Homo sapiens: one gene and its partners. The protein of the gene in region 3 purifies or fractionates together with the protein of the main gene of each other region. This does not show direct contact. Each region holds a gene or a part of one and is shown on either strand. Other genes may lie near its edges.

The links. Proteins that work in one complex are often made in the same cells at the same time.
Region 1: the proteins of METTL3 (region 3) and AFG2B purify together in Homo sapiens (affinity purification with mass spectrometry; 2 studies listed by BioGRID and IntAct, with this or other methods). This does not show direct contact.
Region 2: the proteins of METTL3 (region 3) and KRT2 purify together in Homo sapiens (affinity purification with mass spectrometry; one large-scale study listed by BioGRID and IntAct). This does not show direct contact.
Region 4: the proteins of METTL3 (region 3) and VPS4A purify together in Homo sapiens (affinity purification with mass spectrometry; one large-scale study listed by BioGRID and IntAct). This does not show direct contact.

Annotation. Positions count from the first base shown.
Region 1 is NC_000015.10:45,415,818-45,419,430, reverse strand, and holds part of AFG2B (ATPase family gene 2 protein homolog B), read right to left. Parts: exon of another isoform or gene 3,526-3,613; intron 2,163-3,525; coding exon 2,032-2,162; intron 875-2,031; coding exon 749-874; intron 1-748. UniProt on the Homo sapiens protein: ATP-dependent chaperone part of the 55LCC heterohexameric ATPase complex which is chromatin-associated and promotes replisome proteostasis to maintain replication fork progression and genome stability.
Region 2 is NC_000012.12:52,649,317-52,653,581, forward strand, and holds the start of KRT2 (keratin, type II cytoskeletal 2 epidermal), read right to left. Parts: upstream 2,896-4,265; 5' UTR 2,827-2,895; coding exon 2,242-2,826; intron 1,238-2,241; coding exon 1,023-1,237; intron 659-1,022; coding exon 598-658; intron 1-597.
Region 3 is NC_000014.9:21,504,201-21,509,395, forward strand, and holds part of METTL3 (N(6)-adenosine-methyltransferase catalytic subunit METTL3), read right to left. Parts: intron 1-5,195. UniProt on the Homo sapiens protein: The METTL3-METTL14 heterodimer forms a N6-methyltransferase complex that methylates adenosine residues at the N(6) position of some RNAs and regulates various processes such as the circadian clock, differentiation of embryonic and hematopoietic stem cells, cortical neurogenesis, response to DNA damage, differentiation of T-cells and primary miRNA processing.
Region 4 is NC_000016.10:69,321,332-69,324,489, reverse strand, and holds part of VPS4A (vacuolar protein sorting-associated protein 4A), read right to left. Parts: intron 1,931-3,158; coding exon 1,790-1,930; intron 283-1,789; coding exon 181-282; 3' UTR 1-180. UniProt on the Homo sapiens protein: Involved in late steps of the endosomal multivesicular bodies (MVB) pathway. Recognizes membrane-associated ESCRT-III assemblies and catalyzes their disassembly, possibly in combination with membrane fission.

The DNA of each region.
Region 1 (3,613 bases), on a different chromosome or scaffold from region 3:
GAGTGCAGCGGCACGATCTCATCTTACTGCAACCTTCGCTTCCCAGGCTCAAGCAATCCTCCCATCTCCCCCTCCCAAGTAGCTGGGACTACTAGTCCCCCACGTAGCTGGGACTAACACCACATTTGACTAATTTTTTATTTTTTCTAGAGATGGGGTCTCACTGTATTACCCAGGCTGATCTTAAACTCCTGGGCTAAAGCAATCCTCTCGCCTTGGCCTCCCAAAATGCTGGGATCACAGGCACGAGCCACCACGCCTAGCCCACTTCTTTCGCTTTATTTCTTGCCATTCTCCACTCTAAGATTCAATAATGTCACACCATCTCTTATCTTCAATCCTTTGCACATTTTATTCTCTCCACCTCAAACATTCCCCCTTCCCTTCTTAGCTGGCTAACTCCCGATTTGTCCTTCCAATTTCAGTTTATACATCTCCTTTCTCAGAAAGCCTTCTCTGATGTGCCAAATCTGGGCTGGTGTCTTTCCTAGGTGCTCCCACAGTACCCTCTACTTCCGCAACTCACTACATATTTTCAATTGCCAACTCAGTATTAAGATTTGCCTCTCTGCACCACCCTCCTCACCACCCCACACTTACAATAAGCTGTGTGAGGGATGGGGCCACATCTGTCTGTTTCACATCACATGGTACCACACAGGCTTTTAGTAAATACTGCTGAGTGAATGAAGATTTGAAAAGATGCAGAAATGTTTTGAACCACAAATTTCTTCAATAATTAACTTACTTCTGTGCAGAGGTTTCTAAGATCAGCTCCAGAAAAAAAACAGGTTTCTGCTGCGAGGTTTTCTAAGGAGACATCAGGCCCTATTGGCATGGTTTTTGTACAGACTTTTAAAATAGAAAGCCTGCCCTGGAACAAAATAAAAAACAGTATTTTAAATCTTATAACATTTATGTTTGACACAATGATTTATTAAAATATTTTTAGCTTGAGTTTCCTTTCACATTACCGAGAAAATATATATAGGGGTTAGAAAGACTAAGTCATCAATGGCTTATATGACAATGGTAAAAATAACGACATCATAAAAAACTTATGAATCTTTTTTTTTTTTTTTTTTTTGAGATGGAGTCTCGCTCTGTCACCCAGGCTGGAGTACACTGGCACGATCTTGGCTCACTACAACCTCCACCTCCCGGGTTCAAGTGATTCTCCTGTCTCAGCCTCCCAAGTAGCTGGGATTACAGGCGCCTGCCACCACATCCAGCTAATTTTTGTATTTTTAGTAGAGATGGGGTTTCACCATGTTGGCCAGGCTAGTCTCGAACTCCTGACCTCTGGTGATCTACCCGCCTTGGCCTCCCAAAGTGCTGGGATTACAGATGTGAGCCACCACGCCCGGCTAAATCTCTCTCTTGGGTACAAATAATACTATCAGACATGGCTTAAGAAGCAAATACATGAATTATCAGATACAACTTAAAGGTATAATAGATATTAAATTTTATTTTTCTATCCCTTCAAAACTTGATAAAAGCCCAAGGAACAAAAAAATTCACTCTGTGCCTTTCACCCTCCCTGTCAGTGGCTCTGGATGTTAACGACAAAAAATGTACTGGTTGACCATGATACACTGCATAATCTCTGTAATCTCAGATTTCTGCACCGTACTTTACGGACAACAAATTTACTGGTTGACCACGATACACTGCATAATCTCTGTAATTTCAGACTTCTGCACTGTATGATAAGGATGCTGACTCAATCTTCAAAGCCCTTTTAACACTTTAGGATTCCTCCACTCTAGTTGCAAAATAACGCTGAGTAGACTCAGTATTTAGAGTCTGCCACAACACAAAAAATAACCACCATATATTTAGGCTTATGTTTCTCTGTGAACAAGATCAGAGTATCCAACAAAGGAAGATCAAAATTATGATGTCATGAAAGGCCACCAGGCAAGGAAGAAGGCGGAACCCAGGGTAAGTAGAACACCATGGACACCTATATCCAAGTTGGAATTCAATTCTGCTGAGCTCACACAGAGTAAATGTGTAAATGACTACCTTGTGATCTGGAGGTGGGATATAGATGATCTTATCTAATCTTCCAGGTCGTAACAAAGCAGTATCTAACACATCAGGTCTATTTGTTGCTGCAATAATCATGACACTTCGGTTAAAAACTTCTTGAAACTCTGAGGGCAAACACACAACACAAAGTAATGTCAATCAGTTGTTAATAAGTTTTCTAAAAATTATAAATCAGAAGGTCTATTTAAATTCAAATAGGGATATCCTTTTCTTGGGACCAGAATGCTTATATCCGCTTTCCAGACCAGCTTCTTGATATCAAGATATCCCAGAAACAAATCATTAACCAAAGAGCTACTTTGTGTGCATGGCTAAGGGAGTAGCTAAGAGAAACATTCTCCATATGAGAACCTATGAAAAGCCTTATCCCAAAGGGGAGAACACTCATCTGGTGACTTGAGTGCACCTGAGCCTCCAATGAAGGCTTACACCTTAAACAGGCTACTTAAAAAGACAGATACTTATGACCAACCGGTGGAGATATATGGCTACAGAAAGTCTTGACTCTCATATCCCTAAAGAGGAAGATTTACTCGACCTTTTATTTTTCTTTGAAATGACAATCTAAGTTGCAGGTGCGCAAATCCTGGATAAAGAAATGTCTAAAAGCAGACAGAGAAAGGCTTTACATATACTAAGCATTCAAAATCATTTGTTGAATAATCAGGCAGCTCTCCAGTGACGTAATCCCTCAAAGTACAAAGTTCCCTATATTTGCAAGTATTTTAGCAGATGCTGGGTGAATACCTGTCAGATGCTATAGAAGGAATTCCTGCATTTTGAAATGATTTGATTAGATAACCTCGTGGATACCTCCTAATTCTAGTGTGACATATTCCTAAGGAGTGTATGCAACAATTCCATATGACAATTTTTAAAATAGGAAAAGAATGAGAACGAGAGAGGAATAAAAGAAAAAGTATCAGGGACAATTTAAGGATACCAAACTCATCTGGAGAAGAGACTCAGAAAGAGGGAGGGGACTTCCAAAGGCCATTTTAATTCATTAAAACCAAAGAAACTCATTCCTCAAGAAAACTGGAAATGTTCCATTACTAAGACTATTGGAAATAATAATCTCCTTTGTTTTTCATTCATTCATTCATTCATTCAGATATGGGGCCTTGCTATGTTGGCCAGGCTAGTCTCAAACTCCTGGCCTCAAGCAACCCTTCTGCCTTGGCCTCCCAAAGTGCTGGGATTACAGGCGTGTGCCACTGTGCCCAGTCTACATAAACATTTTTAGAAAGAAATGAATACTGGTTTTTAGGACATGCAAACAAGAATAAACTGCCTTCTCTATTAGCAATAAGTAAAATTATATTTCTCATTCTTAGGAAAAATAAAATTCACATTCTTATATTTAAGATAATTTATTATAAAATGTACCTCACCTTTCCTAGCCAAATCACAATTTTTATTAGCTCTAAAAGTCCTAACAAAGTCAAACTGAAATTATATAAATCCTTCTATGAGATGAATTCAGCATAGGTAAAGCTATAGCATATATGCATTATATTTAATGTTGGCCTGGATTTTAGGTGCATTCTGGCTA
Region 2 (4,265 bases), on a different chromosome or scaffold from region 3:
GACCATCAGAGCCTCGAGATGACCAAGCTTTGCCAACCAGCCCCTCTCTCCTGCTTGAGACACTGTGTGTTTCTACAACAGGATACGATGTTCTTTGTGGGTTTCCACAGTCCTCAGCTCTCTCATCCCGTCTGTCCATCTCACCTCTCCGAAATTTCCCCAGAATATACACCAAAGGCCCTGCAGGACCCAGCAGGAGAACCCTTGCTTTTGGCCTACAACCTCAAACCTTTGTCAGCACAACCAACAGCAACTTTAAGCAGGCATTCTAAGGGAAGTCCCATTCCTTCCTCAGCTCTTTAGAAGGAGAATACAAAGAGATTTTTGTGTTTGCATTTATCATGATTCAGTAGAGGCTTTAAGTGGGTTACTACTGGGAAGCACTCTACCAAAAATGCAGAACAGCTTTGAAAACTGTATCCAGAAGCTTGACCTACAGAGACAATTTTGTTTGCAAGAGAATGTGCCATGGGTCTCACTCCTTTCTCTGGCTGCTGCTTTTGCACTCACAGTTGATTTCCAAACTGGCTGCTTAGACACAATGGGGCTGTGAAGCACTCCTATCCCCACCCCCAGCCAAGACATTCTCTCGCTCACCTTTTTAAGCGTCACAAAATCATTCTCAGCAGCTGTGCGCTTATTGATTTCATCCTCATACCTATTGGGACACAGATGTTACAGCAGTTAGATTAGTTCCCCTTCATTTTTTTTCTTTTCCTTTTATACTGGATTCACCCCAAATGCCCCATTCTCTGGGAATATTACACACTTTTTAAATATCTAAATTGAAACTAAGATTTCCAAACTAAAGATATATTTTTATAAACTAACTCTCAAACATACAAAAGACAAAAATGATCTCTAAAGTCTCACTGTCTTCCTCACAAATAATCAACAAAGATACATATGCCTCTCCCCATTACCACCACAAATGCAACTGGGAGATGAATGGCTTTCCAGGGAGTGATCAAATGGCTCAGTGCAATGTTTATCTCCACTCAGCGTTTCACTCTGCCACCTACTTCTTCTTATAATCCTCCACAAGATCCTGCATGTTATTCAGCTCTGAATTCTGTGATGTTCTTTCTGCAGTGAGCCCATCCAGATATCTCTTGAGGCTGTCGATATACCCCTGGAAGATGGGCTCCAGGTTGATGGGGCGGGTGCCAACATTCATTTGTTGTAGCAGCTCCCATTTGGTCTGTAACACCTGGTTCTGCTGCTCCAAGAACCGCACCTGCCATGACCAGAAGGAGAGCACATGAGTTCTAGATCATCCTTCACACCAAGCAAGCCACGCTGGCCAGGGGCAGCTCAGGTGCTGCTTCAGGACCTCGAGAAGTGTCTGAGGCTGGATGCCGAGTCATGACTGGCAGAGCTTCTGAGCTCCCTGCTTTCGCCCCTGGAAAGTCCCACAGACTCCTAATGCTACATCCGGCTCTCTCCACGCAGAGGAGACTCTTTGCTGCTTCACTGCTCACTGGTTTGTTTGCAGCTGCTCCCAATACTCTAGACCATTTCCCTCCCCGCATCCTGGTTGAATTTCCAGCCAAGATCCCATAAATTCTGGGGAAAACCGAAAGCAGCCATCTGCTGGCACTGCTCGCAAGGGTGCTGAGTATGAGAGTCCCAGAGGGCAGGGCTCCTCAGCCTGATTTTTAAGAGCCTTGTAAATCCCTGCCTATTTCAAGGCAGATAAACCAAGACAGGTTCGTCTGCCTTGAAATAGGAGAAAAGCCAGTAACACTCCGAAGTGACACCAATAAAGACTTTATGGATCACAAAACTGAGAACGCTTCTCTTGAAGGCAGGAATTTCCTGCATTCCCAAGCAGATATTTCAGGTTCAGCTTCCCAGAGTTTAGTAATCACTGCTAAGGAAGGAAACACTATCTCAGAAGACGATGGCTTCCAAAACCTGCTGCTCCAGTGGCCTGTCCCAAGGATCAGTTCAATACTTGCCTATATCCATTTTTTATGGTTTTCAGAATTTTCCATAAATATTATTTATATGGACTGTAACAATAAGGTCAAAGGGACAAATGCTTCCTAAGTGCAGGCTGTTATGGGAAATGTAACCCACAAAGCTGGCGTCTTTTCCATCTGGAAACCGCAAATGACCCAGGCTACTGCGGTACACCACTGGCTCCTAAGAAATACAAATCTGTGCCATTTTCTTTTTGGTTGGCTCTGGAAGTGAAGTGGCCTGAGCATCAGTGGGAGCCGTCTTCTCCAGAGTCACCTTGTCAATGAAGGAGGCAAATTTGTTGTTGAGAGTTTTGATCTGCTCACGCTCTTGGGCCTTCACATTCTGGATCTCTGGGTCAACTTTCACGTTGAGAGGCTGCAGGAGGCTCTGGTTGACAGAGACTTCGTGGATGCCACCAGGGTATCCTCCAGGCCCAAAGCCACCAGGACCCCCTAAACCTCCAACACCACCAGGGCCCCCAAAACCTCCAAAGCGGCCTCCACCAAAGCCGCCTCCACCGAAACCACCACCACTGAAGCCGCTGCCACCTCCAAAGCTGCTGCCGCCTCCAAAACCACCTCCTCTGCCACCAAATCCACCAGCGGCGCCAAAGCCACCACCTCCTCCAGCCACACTAATGGAGATGCTCTTGGTCCCTCCAAGGCCAACAAGACTCCGACTGCCAAAGCCGCCTCCACCGAAGCCCCCGCCACCACCACCATGGCGGCTCAAGCAGGAGAAGCTGGAAGTTGATCTCCGGCTTCCACCAGACACCACAGCTGAGCCGCTGCTGAAGCCCCGGAATCCTCCTCCACCTCCTCCTCTTCCTCGAGATTTGCAAGAGATCTGACAACTCATGATGCCTTTGTCCAGGGAGGAAAGTCACAGGCTCTTGAGAAGAGTCAAGGCTGGAGACTCAACTGTGCTGCTGGGAGGCTTTCAGGGTCCCCTTATATACCTGCCAACTAGGTGTTGTGTACATGGGTGTGGATCCACTTATACGTGGGTTTGGTCTGCCTGGGAGCTATTCCTGGTGCGTGATTATCAAGCTAATAGCCATTAAAAATCTACTAATCAGCTCCATCCCAGAACTTGCTTTGATTGCAAACTTCTGTTTATCTGGGCATCTGTCATGCAATTTGATTTTTGTAAAATCATCAAAAGAGGAGATCAGGGTTTGGGTTTCTCAATCTGGAAAAGGACCTTCTGCAGAATGCTGCTCCCTGTTCTGGACCTGCCCAAGGGAAGTCAGCTACCACCCATGCTTGTGCAGGCTCACCACCCCAGTTCAACAATGAAAGGGATGGTGGGTTTAGAGACTGCAAGAGCCCCTCAATGCCAGCCTTGTAGTTCTCTTGTAGTTTCCCTCTTTCCCAGAAAGAGCCCCAACTAGTGCAGGGGAGACTGCAAAGGTCTTAAATGACCTTAAATGCTAATTGGAAATCGACCTCCTCTTACAGAAAGTAATTGGCCTCGGATACTGCAAAAGAGGTGTCGATTTTCAAAATATCTTGGCTCTTTTCTTCCCATGCCACACCAAAAATACACAATAACTAGGCACCGAATAGAGATTTTTTATAACCATGATGGTTTGTATAACCATCAACTGTCCCTTGTCTACATGAACACCCAGAGGTTGAGAGGTATGAGAAAAGTTTCGCTGTTTCTGGACCTGTGTGATGCGGGACACCAAGTGAAAGTTTGCAAACCAAGATCCAAGTGTATATTGATTCAGTCAGTCAGTAATCACGTATTGCCTGGTGATCCTGGGAAGTGATTAGGAAGTCAGGCTCTTCAATGACATCCACAGATGCTTGAGGATAAGAAGACCATCCAGCCTGCACAGAGCACTCACACTTAAACTCAACCACTTCCTCTGTCCATGTGGCCAACTATGTGGGAGAGGTTCTTGGAGTAATAAAACTGAATTTAGTCAGAAATTCTGGGTTTGAGTCCCAGTTTTGCTATTTATTGGCTGTGAGGCCTTGAATGAAACCCTGAGGCTCTGTGGTCCCAGCTATAAAATGGGAAATTCGTATGAAGTGTTTTGAAAACCACCGTGCACAATAAAATGTCAGTATCATTATTGTTTGGGGTGAGACAAAGATAATTCCTTTTCCTTTCCCCCTTGCCATGTTACTGTCTTCTGGCTACTATGAACATGCACTCTCCACAGGCATCATAAATTACAGAACCAGGTGGTTCAGATCCTAGTACCAAGTTATCACAAAATAATGTAAAAAACATAAGTTTGAGGTCAAATCCCAATTTTCTTGTATCTTAGTTAAATGACCTCA
Region 3 (5,195 bases):
ACATTTTAATAAAGGACAGGAATATACTCAACAACCTAGGCTGGGATCCAATATTCTTTTTGAGGCATGTAGTGTGAATTTTAATGAATTCAGGCCACTGATCAACAAAGTGTACAAAATGACAATGTTGGGGGCCAACAGTGTTACCTATAACACTCACAAACACAAAAATCTTAATACTTTGCTGAAGCCTTGGTTACCAAATGATATTTCCTGACTATATTATTATCATCTATTACTTCACAAGCTGGGTTGCCATCATAACCTTAATAACGATTTGAGAAACTAAAATTAGGACAAAATGTTATCTTTGAGAAAGCCTAATATCTGTGGTTAATTAAAATATAGATGAAATATTAAACTCCTAAGAACTGAACTGAAATTGCTAAATAAGTAGGCCATTAGTTTACATTTAGAAATATTTTGTTTACTTAAATATTTCCATTCTGGTAAGGCACTGGGGCTCACGCCTGTAATCCCAGCACTCTGGGAGGCCAAGGTGGGTGGATCACTTGAGGTGAGGAGTTCGAGACCAGCCTGGCCAACATGGTGAAACCCCATCTCTACTAAAATACAAAAAAAAAAAAAATTTAGCTGGGGGTGGTGATGCAAGGTTATAATCCCAGCTACTGGGGAGGCTGAAGGAGGAGAATTGCTTGAACCCACGAGGCAGAGGCTGCAGTGAGCCAACATCATGCCACTGCACTCCAGACTGGGCGACAGAGCAAGACTCTGTCTCAAAAAATATATAAATAAATAATTCATTAATTTGAAAATTTTCCACTCTAATGGAAACTGAATTTATTAAAATCTGACTCAGGGCTTGGTGTGGTGCCTTATCTCTGTAATCCCAGCACTGTGAGAGGCCAAGGTGGGAGGATCACTTGAGCCCAGGAGTTCCAGACCAGCCAGGGGAACATGGTGAAACCCAGTGTCTCTAAAGAAAATTTTTTTAAAAATTAGCCACACAAGGTGGCCTGTGCCTGTAGTCCCAGCTGCTGGGGAGGCTGAGGTGGGAGGATTCCACTCTCACCCATTTCTTCTTTCATTTTCAGTTTCTCCAGTTAGTAACTGAAGATGTTCTTTGAGTAATTAAGTGAGTGAGAAAATTTTTAAGTGAGAAATCTATAAAAAGAACCATGTTAACATAAATATTTCAGTCCTTACAAGTTGGTATTGACTTTTCTCATTGGTAATCTGACTGATTTAATACTGCTCATTCCAATATCTGGTGATGTAATTCTGGTTATGAATCCTTGTATTAATAACACCTCCTGGGAGGTTTTTTTTCCCCAACATTACATTCAGAATATTAGAGCTGAAAATACCTTTTTTAAGGTTATCAGGAGGAGGGAGCTTATGTTTAATGTGGTGGATAAAACTTAACTGCTGGTTAATACAATTGTTATTCAGGTGAAATTCCCTAAACTTTTCACGTGCAAAGTTTTGTATGTATACAGACATTTGGGGAAAAGTTTTATCATCCCTAAAACCGGTTACTGTCCAGAAAATGATAAGAATCCCTGGGTTCCAAATCCTTCATAAGGTATTTATTCATTTATTTATTCAACACATTTACTCAATGCCTCCGCTCTGCTGCAACTACACTGACATTCTGCTTCTAATCTAACGAAAATAATGTGTTCGGTTTAGCAAAATAATACATAACACTTGATTCACCCTTTAATTAAGAGAACCACTGAAATTAATATGGTCTGATTACAAATTTGCTGAATCCTTAAACGTGTCAACATCTATATGCACATCTTCAATCTCAAGAAATATACTGGAGCACTTCACATATTTACTATGTGCTAAACCTGGCCAAATATAGTTTGTTTCCATTAAAATAAAGTTTTTTTTTTTGAGACGGAGTCTTGCTCTGTTGCCAAGGCCAAAATAAAGATTTTTTTAAGTAATATTTTTCTTTTTAAAAAAATATACTTTACCAACATGAGATATATAACACCCATTAGGATGGCGCTTCCTCAAAAATCAAAAATAGAATTACCATATGATCTAGCAATTCCACTTTTGGGTATATGCCCAAAAGCATTAAAGCGGGGTCTCGGCCGGGCGTGGTTGGCTCACACCTGTAATCCTAGCACTTTGGGAGGCAGAGGCGGGCAGATCACGAGGTCAGGAGATCGAGACCATCCTGGCTAACACGGTGAAACCCCGTCTCTACTAAAAATACAAAAAAATTAGCCGGACGTGGTGGCAGGCACCTGTAGTCCCAGCTACTCAGGAGGCTAAGGCAGGAGAATGGGGTGAACCCAGGAGGTGGAGCTTGCAGTGAGCCGAGATCGCGCTACTGCACTCCAGCCTGGGTGACAGAGCGAGACTCCGTCTCAAGAAAAAACAAAACAAAAAAGAATTAAAGCAGGGTCTCAAAGAGATATTCATACACCCAGGTTCATAGCAGCATTATTTACAATAGCCAAAAGGTAGAAGTAACCCAAACGCCCACCCATGGATGAATGAACAAAATGTGTTATATACATACAGTGGAATATTATTTATCCTTCAAAAGGAAGGAGGCCAGGCATGGAGGCTTATGCCTGTAATCCCAGCACTTTGGGAGGCTGAGGATGGAGGATCACTTGAGCTCAGGAGTCCAAGACCAACCTAAGCAACATGGCAAAACCCTGTTGGGCGTTTTGCCCAAAAAATACTAAAAATTAGCCAGGCAAGGTTGTATGTGCCTGTAGTACATACAACAAGCACCTGCCACCACACCTGGCTAATTTTTATATTTTTAGTAGAGACAGAGTTTCACCATGTTGGCCAGGCTGGTCTTGAACTCCTGACCTCAGGTGATCCACCCGCCTTAGCCTTCCAAAGGCTGTGGACACCTGTAGTCACAACTACTCGGGAGGCTGAGGCAGGAGAATTGCTTGAACCCAGGAGGCAGAGGTTGCAGTGAGGTGAGATGGCACCACTGCACTCCAGCCTGGGCAACAAGAGCGAAACTCTGTCTCAAAAAATAAATAAATAAATAAATAAATAATAAAAATGCCAATCTAACAAAGGTCTCCCAATATTTTGCCCATATTATTTTCCACTATTAACGATGTGGTGGGTACATTTTAGTTCATTTTATATCCTTGTCTTTTGACACTCAGTTCAGTAGTCGGTAATTATCAGATTTCAGTAATGCTGTAAAAAACAAGGTGTGGCCGGGCGCGGTGGCTCACACCTGTAATCCCAGCAATTTGAGAGGCCGAGATGGGCGGATCACGAGGTCAGGAGATCGAGACCATCCTGGCTAACACTGTGAAACCCCGTCTCTACTAAAAACGATACAAAAAAATCAGCCAGGCATGGTGGTGGGCACCTTTAGTCCCAGCTACTTGGGAGGCTGAGGCAGGAGAATGGCGTGAACCTGGCAGTCGGAGCTTGCAGTGAGCCGAGATCGCGCCACTGCATTCCAGCCTGGGCAACAGATGTGGTAGGCAAATTTTTATTTCCGGTGAGAAACGAATGGAATAATCTGAACTTTTATCAAGTCTTGAGTTATATCTTACATGACAACATGATTCATAAACTTACAATACAGTGTTTCACAAGGGTTTCCTAAGAATCCTAAAGCTCAACAAAATACATTCTTTGAAATAATCAAAATAACACAGAAAGAACAGTGACATTCTGGTTTAATTTGTATGTTTCATCTTTACCTATTACCACAGTACCAAATGATGGGTCAGATCAAGCTCTCGGTCAGAAGACAAGATACATTTAATTACAACCCCAAAAATACTTTTATAAGAGTCTTAACTAGACTGGGATTACATCTGTAATCCCAGCACTTTGGGAGGCCAGGGTGGGAGGATAGCTTGAGCCCAAGAGTCCAAGACCAGCCTGGGCAACATGGCAAGGCCCTGTTTCTACAAAGAAATAAAAATTAAAAAGTAGGCAGGCATGGTAGGGTACACCTGTGGTGCTAGCCACTCAGGAGGAGGCTGAGGCAGGAGGATCACTTGAGCCCTGAGGTCGAGACTGCAGTAAGCTGTGTTCACGCCACTGAATTCCAGCCTGGGTAACAGAACGAGATTCTTATCTTACACACACACACACACAGAAAAGGGTCTTAGCTATATTACTAGCTAAATATACAAATCAAGAGATATTCACATCTAAAAAAGAAAAAATAAATAAAAATAAAAAAGGATATGTACATGCAGGGAGAATACAGTCTTATTGTCAAAAATATTAAACATGTTTAGCAAGGACCTGGATCAAAGTATCAAGGCTCTAGTAGTTAGGTCTGCATACAGCAGAAAGTTTGGTTAATACCAAAATGTAGTTAATGTCATAGAAAAATGAAATGAAACTTAAAATGACCAAGAGCAATTAGAATCATTCATTGAAAGAGTATGAATTTAGAAATGGAAAAGTATAAAGAAGTATGATGCCGGGCACAGTGGCTCACACCTGTAATCCCAGCACTTTGGGAAACTGAGGCGGGCAGATCAGCAGAGGTTGGGAGTTTGAGACCAGCCTGACCAACATGGAGAAACCCCGTCTCTACTAAAAATACAAAATTAGCCAGGAGTGGTGGCACATGCCTGTAATCCCAGCTACTCAGGAAGCTGAGGCAGGAGAATCACTTGAACCTGGGAGGCGGAGGTTGCGGTGAGCCAAGATCGCGCCATTGCACTCTGGCCTGGGCAACAAGAGCGAAACTCCATCTCAAAAATAAATAAATAAGTATGATGAGGAACAATTAAAACCAAGAAACAACAAACAACACCACAGATAGAGGATGGCCTGTCACAAAAACGACAGAAAGGTGAACACAAAGTAGTCAATGATGTAGTACACCAATATAGCGGCTTTTTAAAAGTTAATTTTGTAGGCCAGGCATGGTGGCTCACGCCTGTAATCCCAGCACTTTGGGAGGCCAACGTGAGTGGATTGCTTGAGCTCAGGAGTTAGAGATCAGCCTGGGCAACATGGTGAAACCCCTTCTCCACCAAAAATACAAAAAATAGCTGGGCATGGTAGCACACGCCTGTGGCCCCAGCTACTTGAGAGGCTGAAGTGGGAGGATCGCTGGAGCCCGGGAAGTCAAGGCAGCAGTGAGCCATGATCATGCCACAGCACTCCAGCCTGGGTGACAGAGGGAGACCCTGTCTCTAACTAACTAACTAAATAATTTTGCAGATCACTTTGTTGAAACAAACAACTACCTG
Region 4 (3,158 bases), on a different chromosome or scaffold from region 3:
GAGTGTCTCTGTGGCTGCAAGGCCCTTCCTTCTGGCTCCCTGGCAGACGGCCAGACAGCAGAGGGAACTCTGTATTGACTGGGACAAGCCCTGGAGCCCTGTCTGGCTGTTGACATGGGGAGTGCCTGGATTTGCCCCAATCAACCTCCCACCTTCACCATTGCCCAAGTGAAGCAGCTTTTAACTCTCTTGCCCAAAGTCCTCTGAGAATTTCTTCACTTTCAGGAGGTCGTCTGCATTCACCGTGGGCCGGGTGGTGGCCAGAGACCGCAGCATGTCCGACTGTGAAGGCAACAGTATGTGCCTGAGCAGGAGCCAGGCTCCAGGTCCCCAACCTCCCCTCAGCACACAACAGGCGCAGCTGAGGGTGGGAAGAGGTTTGCCTTCAAGGCCACCCCAGAGGCCTGCTTGAATCTGCCTATGGCAGGGACCCTCTTCCCTCTCGAGGCAGCTCAGATGGGCCTCCTCCTGGTCTGAGAATCTAAGCTCCATCATCTCATAACTCCCCTTACGAACTTGCTTTCTTTTTTTTTTTTTTTTTTTTTGGAGACGGAGTCTGTCACCCAGGCTGGAGTGCAGTGGCATGATCTCGGCTCACCGCAACCTCCACCTCCTCGGTTCAAGTGACTCTCCTGCCTCAGCCTCCCAAATAGCTGGGACTACAGGCACGTGCCACCACACATGGCTGATTTTTGTATTTTTAGCAGAGACGGGGTTTCACTATGTTGGCCAGGCTGCTCTTGAACTCCTGACCTCAGGCGATCTGCCCGCCTCGGCCTCCCGAAGTGCTGGGATTACAGGCGGGAGCCACGGCGCCCGGCCAGGAGCCTTCTTAGCTGCACACCCCCAACACCAGCCACAAGGGCAGACCCTTGCCAGGATGGCACGGGCCAGGCTATGCAGGTGAGGCGCTGCCTTTGCAACTGCGTCACAGTCTTGACACATTCACTGCCTCACTGCACCGCAAAGCCAAACCCATGGATTGACGTCATATTATCTGGACCTGACTTTACTTGCTAAAGAATATAAAATGCAGGCTAGGTGTGGTGGCTCAGCTCATGCTTGTAATCCCAGCACTTTGGGAGGCCACGCTGAGAGGATCACTTGAGCCCAGCAGTTTCAGACTGGCCTGGGCAACACTGTGAGGCCGTTTCTAAAAAAAAAAGGAAAAATTAGCTGGGCATGATGGTGTGTGCCTGTTGCTACTCAGGAGGCTGAGGTCAGAAGATTGTGTGAGCTCGTGAGGTCAAGCCTGCAGTGAGCTATCACTGCACCACTGCATCTAGCCTTTCTCTGTATGTACAAAATGCTAATGCTGCCACCTGCATTCTGGGCCCCCAGTGAGTGTAATGCCAGCTTCCCTGAGCTACAAAGGCCATTCTCAACAGCCCAGGACATAGAAGAAGACTATTTTTTATTTTTGAGACGGAGTCTCACTCTGTCACCCAGGCTGGAGTGCAGTGGCCCAATCTCTGCTCACTGCAACCTCTGCCTCCCGGCTTCAAGCGATCCTTCTGCCTCAGCCTCCTGAGTAGCTGGGACTACAAGTGCACACCACCACACCCGGCTAATTTTTGTATTTTTAGTAGAGACAGGGTTTCTCCATATTGGCTAGGCTGGTCTCGAACTCCTAACCTTGTGATCTGCCCACCCTGGCCTCCCAAAGTGCTGGGATTACAGGCGTGAGCTACCATGCCTGGCCTGGAGAAGACCGTTTTTATTCTGGACCCAAACCCTCAATTTTCTGGGCTCTGTGCAGCCCTCTTCCCTCCCCTGTCAAGTCACTTACCATGCAAACCACAGGCTCTAAGAGTTTGTCCCCAGGGACATCCATCCAAGTCATCTCCATGGCTCCTGGGTCCCCTGGTGAGCATGGAGTCAGGAGGTCATCAATCATCATGCTGGGGTTGGTGCGAGAGGGGCCACAGACCTGAAACCAAATGGATCTGACTGGGGCAGCTGCCCCTCAGTGTCAGAGGGGCTCGACCCCTCCGGTCTCTAAGGAAGTCCCAAAGAGAATGCTCTGTGGGTCCCTAGCATCTGAGGAGGACGGGCTCCTTCAGAACTCGGGCTGGGTGGTCCGAGCGACTCATGATTTGCATGGGACTCTGGCAATCTGTAGCCCCAATGCCTTGATGTCTTCCTCATTAACACTGTCACGTCTCACCAGGAATACAGTGACATTAAAAGTGTGATATGGTTTAGCTGTGCCCCCACCCACATTTCAACTTGAACTGTATCTATCTCCCAGAATTCCCACATGTTGTGGGAGGGACCCAGGGGGAGGTAACTGAATCATGGGGGCTGGTCTTTCCCGTGCTATTCTCGTGATGGTGAAGTCTCACGAGATCTGATGGGTTTATCAGGGGTTTCCACTTTTGTTTCTTCATTTTCTCTTGCCACCAGCATGTAAGAAGTGCCTTTGGTCTCCTACCATGATTCTGAGGCCTCCCTAGCCATGTGGAACTGTAAGGCCAATTAAACCTCTTTTTCTTCCCAGTCTCGGGTATGTCTTTATCAGCAGCATGAAAATAGATTAACACAAAGTGGTTTTCCAACTGAAGTCCGCTGCCTTGGCAAAACATTCCCCCAATGTCCACAAGGCTCATTCCCTCACACCTTCACCTCCTGTCTCAGGCATCACCCCAGTGCCATCTGCCCTTCCCTCCATGCCCGAGACACCTCTCTCCTAACCCTGCTCCATCTCCATCCTCTGAGACACTCACTGACTGTGTTGACTGTCTCCCCACCAACAACGGAAGGTCTAGGATTTTTGTCTGTTGGTCACTCATATCTTCCCAGCACTTAGGACAGGGCCGGGCACACAGGAGGACCCACAGCAAATACTCAGCAGAGATCTGCTGAATGAATAGACAGGTCTTCCTGGTCATTTTATATCCAACACTTTCCAAACACTGATTTGGTGTCCACCCCGCACAAGAGCACACAGTGCTGACGGAGGAGGCCGCAGCAGGGTTAAGACAGTAAAGTGGCCCTGTCCTCTGCTTTCACACACCCTGAGATGGCCACACTCCAGAAGAGCTGCAGGGAGGGGACAGTGGGTGCAGCCCCCATGGCACTGGCCCTCGGCTCTCCAGGAGGCCTCAGAGACTGTGTCACCTGAGCAGCCGGGGAGCAGGACCAGGAGCTGGGAAAAA